2 linked regions of the Homo sapiens genome follow. The protein of the gene in region 1 interacts with the protein of each later gene in a biochemical or structural test. Each region holds a gene or a part of one and is shown on either strand. Other genes may lie near its edges.

What was found. The genes of interacting proteins can lie anywhere in the genome.
Region 2: the proteins of EIF2A (region 1) and BZW2 form a complex in vitro, tested with the Homo sapiens proteins (one study listed by BioGRID).

The regions. Positions count from the first base shown.
Region 1 is NC_000003.12:150,563,783-150,572,488, reverse strand, and holds part of EIF2A (eukaryotic translation initiation factor 2A), read right to left. Parts: intron 8,191-8,706; coding exon 8,108-8,190; exon of another isoform or gene 5,383-8,107; intron 4,797-5,382; coding exon 4,723-4,796; intron 4,588-4,722; coding exon 4,443-4,587; intron 4,314-4,442; coding exon 4,197-4,313; intron 532-4,196; coding exon 1-531. UniProt on the Homo sapiens protein: Functions in the early steps of protein synthesis of a small number of specific mRNAs. Acts by directing the binding of methionyl-tRNAi to 40S ribosomal subunits.
Region 2 is NC_000007.14:16,697,421-16,706,126, reverse strand, and holds part of BZW2 (eIF5-mimic protein 1), read right to left. Parts: intron 8,080-8,706; coding exon 7,941-8,079; intron 1,581-7,940; coding exon 1,458-1,580; intron 68-1,457; coding exon 39-67; 3' UTR 1-38. UniProt on the Homo sapiens protein: Translation initiation regulator which represses non-AUG initiated translation and repeat-associated non-AUG (RAN) initiated translation by acting as a competitive inhibitor of eukaryotic translation initiation factor 5 (EIF5) function.

The DNA of each region.
Region 1 (8,706 bases):
GTCTATAAGCTGTTGCAACTTTAGGTTCCTCATTGGGTACTTCACTTGGAACTGCTTGGTAAGTTATTGTTTTTGCTGGAAATATTCCATCCAAAAATGGCTGCCAAGAAACCTGCCATAATTCTGCATTTGATGGCACATCATACTTGTGCAAGATAGAGCCAGTATAATGCCAAATTTTGTATCCATTATTAACCCGTAACCTGGGAGCACATGTAGCTGTTAAAATATGCTCACCATCCGGGCACCAAGCAAAATATGTAGAATCAGAAGCCACCGGTTTAGAAATAAGTTTGTAGTTTTTCACATCCCACACTTCCATTTGTCCCCTCAGATTTCCAAATCCAGCTAATACTAATATATGTCCATGAGGGCTATAGTAGGCTGCATTACGAGGACCAGTTCCAAAGTCAAATACAGGATCACATTTCAAGTTGAAAATTGTCGCTTTGGCAGGCATAAAACCATATACAGCACAAAACTCAGTAGAACTAGAATTCCAAACTACATCATAAATGGGGCCATTTTTTGCTAGAAAAAGAATATAAAGCCCAAATTAGCAATAAAGAACTATATAAATATTTGTTAGCAAAAGTTACCATCATATAGTACTCACAAACACATCAAACAGATAAAAAAATTTCAAGGAATGTTAACATTAAAATACTCTTACATTATATACTAGGGGGATTAATGTATAATCATAAATTTATTTAAGAACCCCTATTGAATCTTAATTTCTTTTAAACATTTTGGTAATATGGCCTTATAGTAATAGTTTGTTACTATTAATAAATTTGTTTTTGGAAGGGGTAATACGTGCAGATGGTAATCAAAATACAAACTAATTTATTTATTTATTTGTTTATTTATTTATTTATAGAAATGGGATCTTACTTTGTGGCCCAGGCTGGAGTGCAGTGGCATGATCACAGCTTACTGCTGCCTCGACTTCCTGGGCTAAAGGGATCCTCCTGCCTTGGCATTCCAAAGTGCTAGGATTATAGGCATGAGCCACTGGGCCCTATATTTTTAAAAATGCCACATAAGACCAGGTGCGATGGCTCACGCCTGTAATCCCAGGACTTTGGGAGGCCAAGGTGGGCAGATCACCTGAGGTCAGGAGTTTGAGACCAGCCTGGCCAACATGATGAAACCCCACCTCTACTAAAACTAGAAAAATTAGTTGGGCACAGTGGCATGCACCTGTAATCCCAGCTACTCAGGAGGCTGAGGCAGGAGAAGCGCTTGAACCTGGGAGGCAGAGGTTGCAGTGAGCCAAGATCGTGCCACTGCACTCCAGCCTCGGTGACAAAGCGAGACTCCATCTCAAAAAAAAAGCCACAAACACAGGTCATTTTACACAAAGGCAACCCTCTGTTATATTTCTTGGATATCCTTTCAGAATTTTTTTTTGTTTTTGAGATGGAGTTTCACTCTTGTTGCCCGGTCTGGAGTTTAGTGGCACGGTCTCGGCTCAATGCAACCTCTGCCTCCCAGGTTCAAACAAGTCTCCTGCCTCAGCCTCCTGAGTAGCTGGGATTACAGGCATGAGCCACCACGCCGGGCTAATTTTGTATTTTTAGTAGAGATGGGGTTTCGCCATGTTGGTCAGGCTGGTTTTGAACTCCTAACGTCAGGTGATCCACCTGCCTCAGCCTCCCAAAGTGCTGGGATTGATTACAGGCATGAGCCACCGTGCCCAGCCTCTGTCAGCAGTTTTTGATGATGCAGGCTTCCCCCTCACTATCCTTCAACTATACTGTGTAGTTTCATATTTTTATCTTCATCAGCCTACTAAGTGAAAATGTCTATCTTGTTTTCATTTGTATTTTTTAAATTATAAGTTAAGCATCTTTTACTGTAAGTAATTTTATTTCTTTTTCTATGGGCTGATTTTTTTTCTTCTTCTTTTTTTTTTTAAAGAGATGGTCTCATTTTGTCACCAAGACTGCAGTACAGCCGTAGGATCTTAGCTTGCTGCAGCCTCAAATTTCTCGGCTCATACAATCCTCCCACCTCAGCCTCCTAGATAGTTGGGATTATATGCATGAGCCACTGCACCGGCTCTGAGGACTAATTTTTACTATCCTATGCCTATTTTATTTTTCTCCAATTATTGGTCTTTTACTTGGCTTACTTGATATATTAAGAAAATTTGACCTTCCTCATACTTATCACTTGACTATTTAAAAAACATATTTTCCCCAACTTTTTGTTCATTTTGCTTAATTTATGGACTCTTTTCTTCTCTCATTGTAATAATCCATTATTCTTCTCTAGTCAAATTCATTATTTTTTCCCCTTAGTACTTCTATCTTGTTTAAAAAGTCTTTTTCTACTCTTAAGATTAGAAAAAAAATTCTCCCATATATTCTTCTAATTCCTCTGCAGTCTTATGTATAAGTTTTTGACCCAACCAGAATTTATTTTGTGAAGAAGATAATAACCTTTTGTTTCGAATGGCTAGCCAGTTATCCCAAACCACATATTAAATGATCAATATTTTCTCCTCCATTGATTCAAATGCTGACTTTATTATATATTAATGTCTACAAAAGTATGGATCTACTTCTGGACTCTGTTCTCTTCCACTGATTTATCAGTTTTACCAGTATATCCATATACCACAACCAAACTGTCTTAATTACAATTGGCTTACTTTTTTTTTTTTTGTGACAGAGTCTCACCCTGTCAGCGGGCTGGAGTGCGGTGGCACGATCTTGGCTCATTGCAACCTCCCACTCCTGGGTTCAAGCAATTCTCATGCCTCAGCCTCCCGAGTAGCTAGGATTACAGGCATGTACCACCACACCCAACTAATTTTTGTATTTTTAGTAAAGATGGGGTTTCACCATGTTAGCCAGGATGGTCTTGATCTCCTGACCTCATGATCTGCCCGCCTCAACCTCCCAAAGTGCTGGGTACATTTTAATATCTGGTAGTGTCAGAACTCCAGATAACTTCCCCTGCCCTGCTCTTCTTTTACACAAGTTTCCAAAATATTCTTGTGTGTTCATTTTTCAACACCAACCTTACAGCCAGTTTATTTAGTTAAAAAAAAAAAATCAGTTAGCATTTAAATTTAGTTTTAGACTGACAAGAGAGAAATGACATCTTTATAAAAATAATTCTTCTTAGTAAAGGTCATAGTTTGTCTCTCTGAAGAGTTTTAAAGTTTTCTTCTCATTGGCCCTATATATTTGTTCTTATTATTTTTGCTATATATGGAATCTTTCATTTTTTTAAAGTAGCTGTTATAGTGTGACTTCATCTACATGAGCAGAGATGATTTTGTTTTCTTTCAAAACTGTATATATTTTACTTCTGCTGATTATAGTGACTAGGTATTTCAGAATGTTATTAAAATAAAGTGAAAAGGGGAGCCATCCTTGTTTTTTCTCTGACTTCAATGGAAATAGTTTTTTTAAAACATAGATTACCCTACTTACACATGTTCAATTCAAAATGAGAAAATTAGGACGCTATCAGTATTTTAAAACTATTATTTTAAAGTTTTAGTTCATTAAAACAACAGATGAAGTGGTAACATTCTTGGATATTATTATTTTGAGACAGGGTCTCGCTCTTTCACCCAGGCTGAAGTACAGTGACATGATCATAGCTCACTGCAGCCTTGAACTTCTGGGCTCAAGTGATCCTCCTGCCTCAGTCTCCTGAGGAGCTGGGACTACAGGCATACGCCACCATGCCTGGCTAACTTTTTCTATTTTTTGTAGAGGTAGGGTCTCACTATGTTGATCAGGCTGGTCTTGAACTCCTGAGTTCAAATGATCCTCCCATCTCAGACTCCCAAAATGTGTTGGAATTACTGGCACGAGCCACCATGCCTGGCCTCTTGCATATTACTAACAATTCTAAAGACAGTATTAAGCAATTTGCCGTCATAATTAGCTAAGTAAGTTCCAAAAGAGCTACTACAATGGAATTACCTTACTCAGGAAGTTCACTTCTAAAACGATGGCGTAACTCAAATAACTAATTGTATTCTGCCAAAATAAGGTATGTTGGAGGATGATTTTTAAGTTTCTTAATTAAGAAAAATTTTATCTTAAAGGTTATTAAGGCATATGAATTCTATCTTTTGATCAAGAATTTAGATTATATCATCTTTATGGCATAGTATTTTTTACTATCATTGTTTCTAATCAAAGGAAGACTGCTGGAATACTCACGTAATTGCACTACAGCACTTTCTCCATTTGTTGCAATGTAGTGTAGAGTTTGTTCTCCATAGTAGGAAGCTCCTGTCTTGTCAACATCTGTGCTAGCTATTACCAACACAGCAGTAGCTATAACAGTAAAAACTTTAATTAGATTTAAAACACAAATGGGCATTGATTCTTCTGTTATACACATAGGAATATAGCCTAAATTAACAACTGATAAACAAAGGGAGGGATAAAATATACTTAACATACCTTTTTTATTCCACAGCATTGTAACTTTATCTGCCTTAAAGAAACTTTTATTAGCTAAAGCTGCATGAGGTCCAGCAAAGTTGGGGTACTGATATAATCTAACAAATGAAGGTGCACCTTTACTTCCTGGAACATAGACAGCCACCTAAGATACATAGACATAAATCATTACTTAATTTTTTGAAGAATAAAAACTGAGATGGACATGTTTTTACAATCACAAAAAACTAGGAAAAGGTTTAAACACATAATATTACACATAAACAAAAACAGCAATTACCTTGTATGGTTGGGGTCCAGGTGATAATACAAAATCATTAATTTTTTGCAAATGCAATTTATTTGCAATTGTGTCTAAAAAAAAGAGTAAATTAAATCAGATTGATGAGAGAACCTAAAAGGAACATGTTAAACTCTGAATACATTATCAAAGATCACTATAACTACACACCAATACTACTCACTGTAGTCTCCTCCTGGTGAGATACAGTAACACAGTGGAAAAAGCATGGGGTAGGAGCAAGACAAATGTAGGCTTCAATTTCTACTCAGTCATTTACTTGCAGTGTGAGCTTAGGCAAGTAATGGGATTATACCACCCAACTCTCAGTAATTGGTTTTAAGAGAAGAGTGCCAGGCACATGGTAGGTATTTGATAAATGTCAGTTATCCTCTCTTCAATCGCTGAAATAAAGTGGTCTTAGAGCCTATTAGAAGGAAAAGATCAACCTTGGCCTGCTACTGCAGAATGTGGATATGGAAATTCTGTAACTTAATGTGATAAACAGATGCATGATAATGATGATCACAACCACAGTAACAATGGCTGATATTAAGAGCTTACTCTATTCCAGGCAGTCTGAGCCATGCTATTATTAATAAAACTGCCACTCTAGTTAATTAGATCAAGAGCTAATATACTTTCTTTGTTCAATTTCAGAGATCAATGGCTTTTCAAAAGCAGCACACCAAACTGTCAAAGTGGTGATCCCTCTTCATTTGACATGCTCACAAAGAGGAGAATAAGACAAGAAAGCAAGCTAACCCAGAAACAGTGAGGTGACAGTGCGCCTCAAACACAGGAAAATAAAATGCATAACTATACTGATTGGATGCTGCTCAAAATCAGCCTACATGCCATCTTTGGTACGTGTGAACAAAGTTACCAATTCCTATTCTAACTATGATATACTCAAAACTGTACAATCAGTAATGGGATGCTCTAAAGACAAAAGAACTGCAAACCCTTTTTAAAAAATTATTTTCAGTAACAGTGTTACTTTTTGGTATTAAGATTGTAAGAATACCTTGTGGATAATGTGGAACAAACCAAATGAATACTTATGTGAATGTGATATTCTCAAATTATCATCCCTGGTATTCCAGAGTAACAAGATTCTTGGTGGTGACAGAAGGCAATACAAATAAGATAGAAGTTAAATAAAAACCTTGTAGTCTTCAATTTAAATAAAACTATACGTATAAAACTTTAATTTAAATAAAATTATGATTGTTACATCTTTTAAATAGAAAAAAAAGGCCTAGAAACAATGATCAATGCAACAGCAAATAAGAATCTCTAGAACCTAAATACCTTTTTTTTTGCTAGACTCAGCCAATTTTTCAAGAAACCCTATTACCTTTTAATGTTTCCTTCAATGAGATCAAGAGCTAATACTTTTTCTTTGTTCAATTTCAGAGATCAATAGCTATTCAAAAGTAGCACACCAAAAAGGCGACAGGGTTTCCTGAAAAATTAGCCAGTTCTAGGTGTAATGGTTAGAAATGTACAAATTAATCCTAGAATGACTTGTCTTACCATATAGCAAAGAAGTCACTAAGGATTAATTGATCAAAGATGAGACAATTTGAGCATCAATAAGAAAAATAACTACAATGGACTGAAACACATACCTTTTAAATCCACAGCTCATTAAGAATGGGACTAAAAAGGCCAGGCGTGGTGGCTCACGCCTGTAATGCCAGCACTTTGGGAGGGTGAGGCAGGTGGATCACCTGAGGTCGGGAGCTCGAGACCAGCCTGACCAACATGGCGAAACCCCATCTCTACTAAAAATACAAAATTGGCCGGGCATGTTGGCACATGCCTGTAATCTCAGCTACTCAGGAGGCTGAGGCAGGAGAATCGCTTGAACCTGGGAGGCAGAGGTTGCGGTAAGCCGAGATCGCACCATTGCACTCCAGCCCGGGCAACAACAGCGAAACTCCATCTCAAAAAAAAAAAAAAAAAAAAAAAAGAATGGAACTAAAAAACAGCCTGGGCAACATAATGAGATCCTGTCTCTACAAATAATCAAAAATTAGCCGGGCATGGTGGTGCAAGCCTGTAGTCCCAGCTACTTGGGAGGCTGAGGCAGGAGAATTGCTTGAGCCCAGGAAGTCGAGATTGCAGTGAGCCATGATTGCACTCAGCTTGGACAAAAGAATGAGGCCCACTCTCGAAAAACAAGAATGGGGAAAAAGCTAATTGGTTACAATGAAGGTTGCTAGAGGTGGAATACATTATATTAAAACTGATAAGAGCAAGAATATTTATCCCGCCTTTTCTATATAAATGCAGCACTAGGTAACCAAATAGTAGAAGGGGAAATTTTTCTTTATAGAAGCAGTACAGCTGAAAAATAAGTGAGGGAGAAAAAACCAGAGTATCAACAATTTGCAACCACTGATGAAATAATGCATCCAGGCATGAAACATTAATGTCAGCTAAGCCTACAAAATTAAAGACAACCAGACATTATGTGCTTCTTGATAAAAGAAGTGAACATCACCTTATAATGTAGTCTTACCCTTACTCACCTAAAAAAGAACCTGAAGCTGAAACTCTAGAGCCAACTTGCAATTTATAGGGGACAGATGAACATGTTAAATTATACCATGGGATACAAAAGCAAAATTCAAACTATGGGAAAACGTGAAAGACAAATAACCTTGTTTCTTAAACAATAAATTATGAAGAATAAAATAACAGATAGAGTGGGAACTTATAGGACCAAAAGAAACATAAAAGATATATCAATCAACCACAATGTGCAGTACCTTATTTGGATCCCGAGTTTTAAAAAAAATTGTAACATTTGCAATTAGTAGAAATTTGAACACATATTTAATAATTTGTGATAATGGTTTTGTGGCTAAGTTTAAAAAATGAAAGGCCCCAATCTTCAGAAATCTACTCTGAAATATTTACAATTACATATTTAACAAGTATATAAAAGTATAACCATATCTGGGATTTGCTTTCACTTAGTAAGAGATGGTAGCTGGAGAGATGTATGGATGAGATAAGATTGGCCACAAGCTGATGGTTACTAGAACTAGGTGTCTGAAGTTTAAAATTCTACACGATAAAATATCTAAAAAATTTGTGTCACAGAATTTCAATAGCAATTAAATTCAGGAAAAGATATTCAAATGTCTTAATAGCAATTACCAGATAATAAAAAGTTATTGTAAAAGAAAACCTTTGTGTTACAGATTTTCACTGAATTCAGACTTATAAAGAATTATGCAAATGTATGTAAGAGTAATTATTGATTAATAGATTAACAGTATTTAGGAAAACCCTATGATGTCATAAAAGTTAATGGAAACTGTATACGATTACAGTAAGTAATAAAATTATGTCATAAATCTTTCCATACTAAAATTGTTGTTTTCAAAGAAGTGAACTTCATTGTTAACATTGCGGGCACAAAGAGTTTCATCTTCTGACCAGGATGGACACCTATGTCAATGAAAAAAAAAAAAAGTATAAAAAATATTCAGACAGAATGTAACATCACATTAACATGTTAAAGTAATTTATGATATTGGTTACCATTTAAGGAAAAACACTTATAAACACTTATAAATATGATATTAAGTCAGTTACTAATAGTTTTAGTCAATATATGTTAATAGAAAAGGCCAGGTGCGGTGGCTCACACCTGCAATCCCAGCACTTTGGGAGGCCAAGGCAGGTGGATCACCTGAGGTCAGGAGTTCAAGACCAGCCTGGCCAACATGGTGAAACCCCATCTCTACTAAAAATACAAAAATTAGCCAGGCATGGTGGCACGTGCCTGTAGTCCCAGCTACTTGGGAGGCTGAGGCAGGTGAAATTGCTTGAACCTAGAAGGCAGAGGTTGCCGTGAGCCAAGATCAGGCCATTGCACTCCAGCCTGGGTGACAGAGCGAGACTCCCTCTCAAACAAACAAAAAAAAGAAAACATTGTTCCTTTCCACTTAATACTAAAGGAAA
Region 2 (8,706 bases), on another chromosome or scaffold:
GGTGTGTGGTAACCTAGGTATTGTGCTTGTTGAGCCATTTAATTTTCCTCACCTTCCGATTCGGATTCTAGGAGAGAAGAAAGAAGTGAGATATTTCCTCCCAGATTCCTCTAATTAAGGTCAAAAGTTACTACAGTCACCAACCCAGAACCCTGCCATTGCACCAGCATACTTTTACCCTAGGCACCCATTATAAGGTAAAATAGTCACATGAGGGCAGATAGCAAACTCTTGCTCTTTTCTGCTTTCACGTAAATTTTGCCTGTCTAAAAATGCAACATGCATACATATACAAATACCTATAAATGAATACATTTTATATATATTAAATTTATACATATAAATTATATAAAAATTTGAATATATATAAAATTAAACAATATAACTTTTCTTCTTTGGATCACCTAAGATAAACTTTTTATTCTTTTTTTTTTTTTTTTTTGAGATGGAGTCTCACTCTGTTGCCCAGCCTGGAGTGCAGTGCTGTGATCTTGGCTCACTGCAACCTCCGCCTCCTGTGTTCATGCCATTCTCCTGCCTCAGCCTCCCGAGTAGCTGTGACTACAGGTGCCCACCACCATGCCCGGCTAATTTTTTATATTTTTAGTAGAGACACGGTTTCACTGTGTTAGGCAAGATGGTCTCGATCTCCCGACCTCATGATCTGCCCGCCTTGGCCTCCCAAAGTGCTGGGATTACAGGCGTGAGCCACCGTGCCTGGCCTGAACTTTTTATTCTTAATTGAATTCACTTTATTTATTTATTTATCGAGATGGAGTCTTGCTCTGTCATCCAGGCTGGCGTGCAGTGGCGCAATCTTGGCTCACTGCAACCTCTGCCTCCTGGTTCAAGTGGTTCTCCTGCCTCACCCTCCCGAGTACCTGGGACTACAGGCGTGAGCCACCATACCTGGCTAATTTTTTTGTGTTTTTAATAGAGACAGGGTTTCACTATGTTGGCCAGCCTGCTCTCAAACTCCTGACCTCAGGTGATCCACCCACCTCTGCTTCCCAAAGTGCTGGGATTACAGGTGTGAGCCACCACACCTGGCCTGAATTCACTCTTACTCATTATTATCCTTCCACTTTATATTTCCATTATTTAAAATTGCCAGTTAATTGGTAAAGGTGTCATAAAAATCTATAGAATTCCATAATGCGTGATTAAGCTAAATGTATTTTTCTCCTTTCACATCTACTAATCATTTCTTCCTTATTGTCCTCCATCAGAGTGGATAATTTAAGCATTTCATTTCTTTCTTTGTTTTTACATGTAGAGATTTTTATTGCCGTGATTTCAGAAAGGAAAGCTAAGATGTTGGCAAAATGTTTGATACGAAAGATAACTCTAGAATTTTAGTTTTAGAAAATCAAGTAAAATCTGTGGAAGAGGTAAATATTTTGACATATAATGAGACAGTGTTTAAAGGTCATCAATGTTTGTAAACAGAATCATACCTTCTTCTGCATTTTGTAACCACTCAACAAATTTCTTCATCTGGTCAAGAAAAACACTTTTGCCTTTAGCAACATGTGCTTCCTTATACCATTTCAGTATTGCTTCTTCGCTCAGAACATCAGCTGCAATTTTAAATCAAAGATTTCAAAGTTACTATACAAATGTCATGTTTCAAAACAACTTCATGTATTACAGTTTAATAGAAAGCAATCATTTTAAATATAAAGCATTCTGTTACTTATCAGAAGAGAGGAACCAAGTTGATTTTCATGTAGCATAGTGCCATATTTTGATAGCTTACTAAAGGCTTAAGTACTGATGATGATGATATACATCTTCTTAGGCATGATATAATGCAAGCCTATAGCTCACTACTAGGACTTGGAAATCTCTCACAGTGCTAATTTGCTGGTAGGAAATAGAATTGTTTTGTAATTTTGCAAATGAACCAGCAATTCCAGCATTTTAGAACATTTTGGGTCCTGCCAAGTTCAACCATATCTTGATTAAAGAGTAACCTCAAATGACCAGTGTCTTTTAAGGAGATTGGGATTTTCTTTTTTTAGGAGAAAAATGACAAAGGAAAAAAATGTAGATAGTATGCAATAATGATGTTAGCAATTAGATATAAAGAGGAACTTCTGGGCTATGTTGTGGGAGTAATACACACCTAAACTGAAGTTCTACACTTTCTCCATCACTAAATCACGACTTATTTTCCCACAGTATATCCCAAATTACAAGAGTAATATTTTTCCTCTACTACATTAAGACAAAATAGACATATTAGCTAATTTCCTACAGGTTTCTAAAAACAACAAAAAATGTTAACTATCTTTTGTCTAAAACTCTAAATTCCACAAATGTGCCTTGATATTCTCAACATAACATTAATTGAGAGTATTTAATGTTAAGAATAGGAAGGAGAATATAAAAATAAGTGTACATAGTCTCCCAATGTTCTAATGGGTTGTTCTAACATTCTTCTAATGTTCCAATGTTCTAATGGGTTGTTGTTTGGGAATCTGTAGTGGGAAACGAGACAGAAAACAGGTACAAAGCATTTATTATTGTCCCCGAGATGTGCTCAATTCATTACAAATACTGATAAAGCCATATAATGTTAATAAATTACTTTAATGATATCTTTTCAGTTAAAATATAATTTCAACTTATGAAAATGACAGAAACAATTTAATATTGTTTTCATTTAAAACATCACTGGTAGTTTCATAACAAAAACATTGGCTTTTTTTATTTTTAAAGAATTATTGGCTCTTGGAAAATGTTCTTGAATTAAATTGAAGAGGCTGAGCTGACTAAAATGAACATGATTTGTTTATGAAAATAAAAGGTTTTTTAAAAAAACATGTTTATTATCATCACTAAAAACATTACATTTTGCAAAGGAAGCAAGAAGTCTGGATTTACTTATAGAGCCTGGATGTAAGAGCTACAATCAGGGGTCCTGTAGACTTATTCTTAGCTTCTAGTTATTTTAGCTCTTTGTTTCCAGCTCTCCACTGAGATAAAAGAAATTTCTACCAGCCATCAGAGCCTAATTGTCATAGAGCTGAGGAGCAGGCAGTTGTGTCCCGAGGAAGTGACCTGTTATTGTGTAAGACTGCCTTGCAGAGACTTTTAAAGAACATTAACAGGGATTTTAAAAGACCCTTTTATATAACTTGTAAATTATCTTTAAGATGCTTATGATTAGATCAGTAATTATCAAACTGTTTGGATCATGTCTTCCTGCCTGTAGGATAATTTTGAGCATATACACCCAACATATGTATATTTTTGAGTTTATAAATTATATTCATGCACTATTAAACTATCATTATTAATGTTCTGCACAAACAATATAATTTTAAACTGTGACAAACATGGAAAGGAGAATTGTTTTTTTTCTCCACACCTTAATGAATTGAGGATGATACAAAGTACAGGTTGGAAAGCTGATGTAGACTGCAGTTTAGTGATACTATTTGTCTGAGCTTTCCTTTTGAAGGTTGAGAGCACATTCCTGTGTTTTATTGCCTCACAGAGGCTGAAGGAGACCATGCAACTACTAAAATGCTTGTCAATGTCAGTGCTTGTGAAAAGCACACTAAATGATAGGTAAAACCTATCAAATGCATTGTTTATTGCAAATCTTGTGCCTTGATATTCTTAAGTTACCATTAATTGAGAATATTTAATGTTAAGAATAGGAAGGAGAATTTAAAATAAGTCTACATATTAACGGCGCAATGTGGAGTTCTTAGAAGAACCCAGGGTAGTAACAACTACTTGCTGAAAGATCAAACTTCTAGTACCAGAGAATTATTAATTAAAAGCTACTGAAGTATCTACACAGAGCACCATATGAGGCAAAGTATGAACATCGAAGAGTTTAAGAAGAAATTAAACTTCTATTTAGTGAAAGGAAAGGTCTGAAAAGGAAGGAACTCCTTGAGGGACAAAGAATTCAGACAATTTTTTCCCTCACTAAGGATAAAGTAGGGAAAAGAGTTAATTAAAACTGAGAAACCATTTTTGGTGGGATATTTCATAAATGCCTATTAGGAATATAGAATAACAGTAAAAGACAGTAAGAAAGGAAGACATTGTATGATGGCACATAGAGACTGGAATATATGTTTTCCCCTTCTATCTGGCCAACTTCTTCATAATGTCTGGTGAGATACATGTACCTTGAGAGCCTTCACTTCTCCCCCTCCAAATTACCTTTAACAAGTTAGGTGCCCTCCCTCTGTGGTCCTATCCCTTCTGACACCCTCTGTGTGAGGCTTATTTCAGCAATTGACATGGTGAGTGTAATTCTTTGTTTTCTTCTACATCCTGAAATTCAGGAAGTCAGGGACTATATTTTGTTCATCTCATTTCCAGCATTTAATGAAAGACCTGCCCTATAGTATCGATTCAACACACGTTTAAGGAATAAATTTGTTAACTTGATGAGAAAAAATAAATATTTCTCAATTTGTAGAGTTCTAATGTATTCATGAGGATCGAAGAGACAATACTGTAAAAGTGGCTTGAGAACTGCTAAATTTTAGATCATGTTAGTTATTTAGAAACTTAGTCTGAAACTATGTCACTTGAAACTCTTGAAATTCAGAAATTTTTTTATTAGGAATGTCACATAGGGACACAAGTCAAAAATAATTTACCCTAAGAATGCTGGGAATATATGCTGAGAAGGGCACTCACCCTTTTTTAGAACTAGAATAAAAAACTCCTTTTAGAAAAATTTGCATGCAGGATAGAATTTAACCTAAAAAATTTCTGCAAACAAGAAAACCCATGATAGAGATAATAACAGTACTTGACAAGGTAGTTTTACACATTTTAGACCATGCTGAGTCTATGGGACTTATCTTCAGGGAAAAAAGAAGAGAAAATTATTTTTAAAAGTCAATAATGTGATGCTTGAAAGTTAGCAATGGATTTACTGTTTCTTACTACCTTAAAAATATGCAAATCTAGATTTTAATACAGAGAGTCTTTGCAAAATGACCCATCACCACTTTTTTCTTTGCTGACTAGCATTATTTAGTTTATTTGCTTTTATTCCACTGTTATTTATGTAAAAGATTTATAAATCTTTCAATAATGATATTCAATTAAGTAATTAGATTTGCCAAGGGGGACATGGCTAATCATATGCCCAAGTTTCTGCTATCATCAAGTTCTGGACATGTTGGGAAAGGGGAGGTGTGTGTGTGTCCATGTATATGTTTGTGTGTGCTCTGTGTGTCAGAGAGAGATAAAAATGAAAATTAAAATGGAGCAACGGTTTCCATTACATTTTAAAAACTTGTTTTAGAGCACTACGTTCCTTATGACAAACAAAAGGAATCCACAGAAACTTGGTAAAAGAAGCAGAGAAGACACTACTCCATATGTGTAAAATGTGGGTATGTACATGAAATCAAAGGTAAGTATAATCTTGAACATGTCACTGGAGTTCATAGCATCTGTTGCTTCTTGAATGCTATACACTTTACACCAGTGGTCCTGGTACAACAGTCAGAGCATCAGCTTGGAAACTTGTTAAAATGAAAATTCTCAGGCCCAACCCTGGCCCTACTGAATCAGAATCTCTGGGGGAGCTGTGTTTTATAACAAGCTCTCTGGGTAATTCTTAGGCATATTAGGAAAGGAGTGCTTTAACACTCACTGTTTACTAAGTCTCCCTCTAGGCATATAAAACACGGAATGAGAGCATCCAAATCTTTACAGAAACAAATCAAATACATGTCTCCTGGTGCACAAGTGTTTGGTGGACAAAATAAGGTGAAAGTAAAAATCTGGCAAAAAAGAGACAAGATGGTAAACATAGTTAACACAGTAACGCTCTTAACGGTGGTATGGAACAATCATTCCTCAGGGATTGCATGTTCTCCAGAGAAAACATGGAATCATTTCACTTAAGAAAACAGACTATATATATCATTCTGTGGAAAATTACAAAATTACCTAGAAAATGGTATTGAAAATGTTAGTTCAGTGATGTGTTTTAGGTTTACATTTTTAAAAAAGTTTCCCAATTTCATTTCCAAAAATAACTAAGGCAGAAATAAAATTGATGTTGACACTCACCCTTCCTGTGTTCCCTGGGGCCAGGTCATACTTGCCACAGACCTCACTAACTTTAGGTTATTTAAACGCTGATTACCTAGTTAATCAATGAGCCTAAGAGCTCATGCCTCTTCTTTTTACTTCCTAGTGCTTACTTCTTGAGTTATTTTCTAATTTCAGGTCATACTGACCCTTAGCATCTGGGGCTGATGAAGAAGAAAAAACTCAAAGTAGCCAGTTTTACTACCTGTCAGTAGTTGTTATAAGAAGTCTAAGTCTAAAGGAAAAGGAGGTTGGCATTAGTGGTTAAAATGAGAAATCTGAAGGATTTTAATAGTTCATGTGCCACCTAGATGTCATTTCCCGTAACAATGGGTTTGCTGATTCTTTGTGATTTCATTACAATAATACGATAGGGTGCTCCTGAAGATGAGACTCCGACAACGATGTCTCAGTTAAAAAAAAAAATTGGTGAGAAACACTGGTTGGGTTATCTTTTATATGACAAGAAAGCAAACTATGTTCAGGTAACTAACTAGTTTACGAACAGTTTGGTTTTCCGTAGTGGAAAAAATTGACCACCCTCAAAACAAATGTGAAACCTGTCCCATAGGTCTCTCTGCCAGTTTTACAAATGGAGCCAGCTGTGGCCACAGAAGGTTGGGCCCCACTTCTCGTTCTTGGCTGCTGGGTACCATCTATGAATTGGTAACATGGCTTGCAGGTTTGGTTCTGATGGGTGGATCACTTTGGGTATCATTGGGTGGGGCCTAGTTTTAGGACACTGCTATCTTATGACTAAATCCAAGAAGACCCAACTCAGGTCTGGTTGGAGAAAATACCAATTACTGAACTTCAAGTGGCAATGGGTGGCCATCATATTTTCCTCCTGACTATTATAATTGTTGCTGAATACCTCTGTGCCCTGAAAAAGTAAAATATCACCCAAACACTTGTGGACAAGATTCATTCATTTGAGGAATCTACGTGGCCAATAAAAATTCATTGTGAAATGCTATTAAGCATTTTTAAAAGAGCTATTATTTATCTAAAACCTTTATTTTCCAAATTCCCAAGATATAATTCAAAAGAGACAAATTTAGGAACACATGAAAGGGAAAATAAACATTTGGCTGGTATTATTTTAACTTTTCTGATATGATATTTATGAACATAATAACATAAAATAAACATGTTATAATGTTCAAAATGTACCACTTCTTAAGTGTTCCTTTTTCTCCCTCACAAAACTACATAAATGTAGGCCCAAAAAATAGCCTAGGACATTTCTGTATGCTGTAGGTATACAGATTGGGATCGGTTAAAACCTTTAGCATTCATATTTTAGTGCCAGTTGTCATAGCAACCTAATCCTTATAAATACAATGAAAAGACAGTAAATGTGAAAACCTAAAAATAGCCATTCCCTTGGAAAACAGGAGAATGGCTGGGCCAAGTAACTAAAATACAAAGTAAAAAGGCTAATTACTTCAGTAATTTTAAAGTCAGATTTATGGTACCTAAAAGAGTCTGAACATAATATATATACTATTTTGATAATCATTGTTATTAGAGCTAATCCTTACAATTCAAAAACAGGCTCAATTTTATATAATTACATTTTTTTTCCACCAACCCCAAGAAACAATTACCAGTTCATCTACCAATGAGAAGTGCCCAGGGGCCTAAGCAGGGTTTCCAAGGCAACGCATATATGGCGTGTATGCCTCCTCTCTCTACATGGTATGGTTGCCTCAATAAAACTTTCACAAATTAGCATCTTGCTGTCCCTCTCTAAACAGAGCCCCATGACCTCCTCTGCCTCATTGCCTGCTCTGCCTCTCAAAGAGCTTCAGCAAAACACAGAAGCACAGCAGTGGCACGTGGATGGATACCTTTATAAAAGAGAACCACAATCTTCTGAAAGGCTTTCATGAAATGGATGTTGTCGTAGCAGTATTCCTGAACCTTCTGGAGGAGGATCAGCTCTGACTGGCCTTGGGAGCTGAACACGGCCAGCAGGGGAGCATATTGCTAGAACAGAAGTGGAGAGTAAAAGCCGTCACTTGCGTGGGAGGTACAGAGCCGACACTGCTGGAACTATAACAGTAACCTGGAGGGTTGCTTAGAAAAGACTGACTTTCAGGATTGACACCTTTTATCATCATATTGTGCCCAATGGGGTGAGGGGAACAGAACAGTAGGAACAAAGCAGTATAGTCGACCTGTGAGGGAACTGGGAAGAAGATTCACATTTTTTCAATGGCAGAGCCACAGTCCAATAATACAATGGATATTCTATGAGGATATGACCTCATTTTCGAAATATCCCTTAGACATAGCAGGCCAGCAATTATCTTTAATATAGGCAGATTCTCATATTTGGTCTCTTAGTGGGTACAGGGAAGGAATCTTGATGAGCTGCTGGGATAAAAAGCATTCATTTAGAAATATCCTTGACTTTCTGACACTGAGGCATAGCCATTGTTTTTCTGAGACTTACTCAATTCAATACTTATCTCTTCCAAAGGGCCTTCCCTGATCAAAGTAACATGGACAGTTTACTCACTGCTATGTTCTCATGAACGCTGGGTGCAAACTTGGAAAAAAATTAGGAAGTATATGTTTAGTCTGAGTCTAGGGTAATTGTAGTTGGAACCC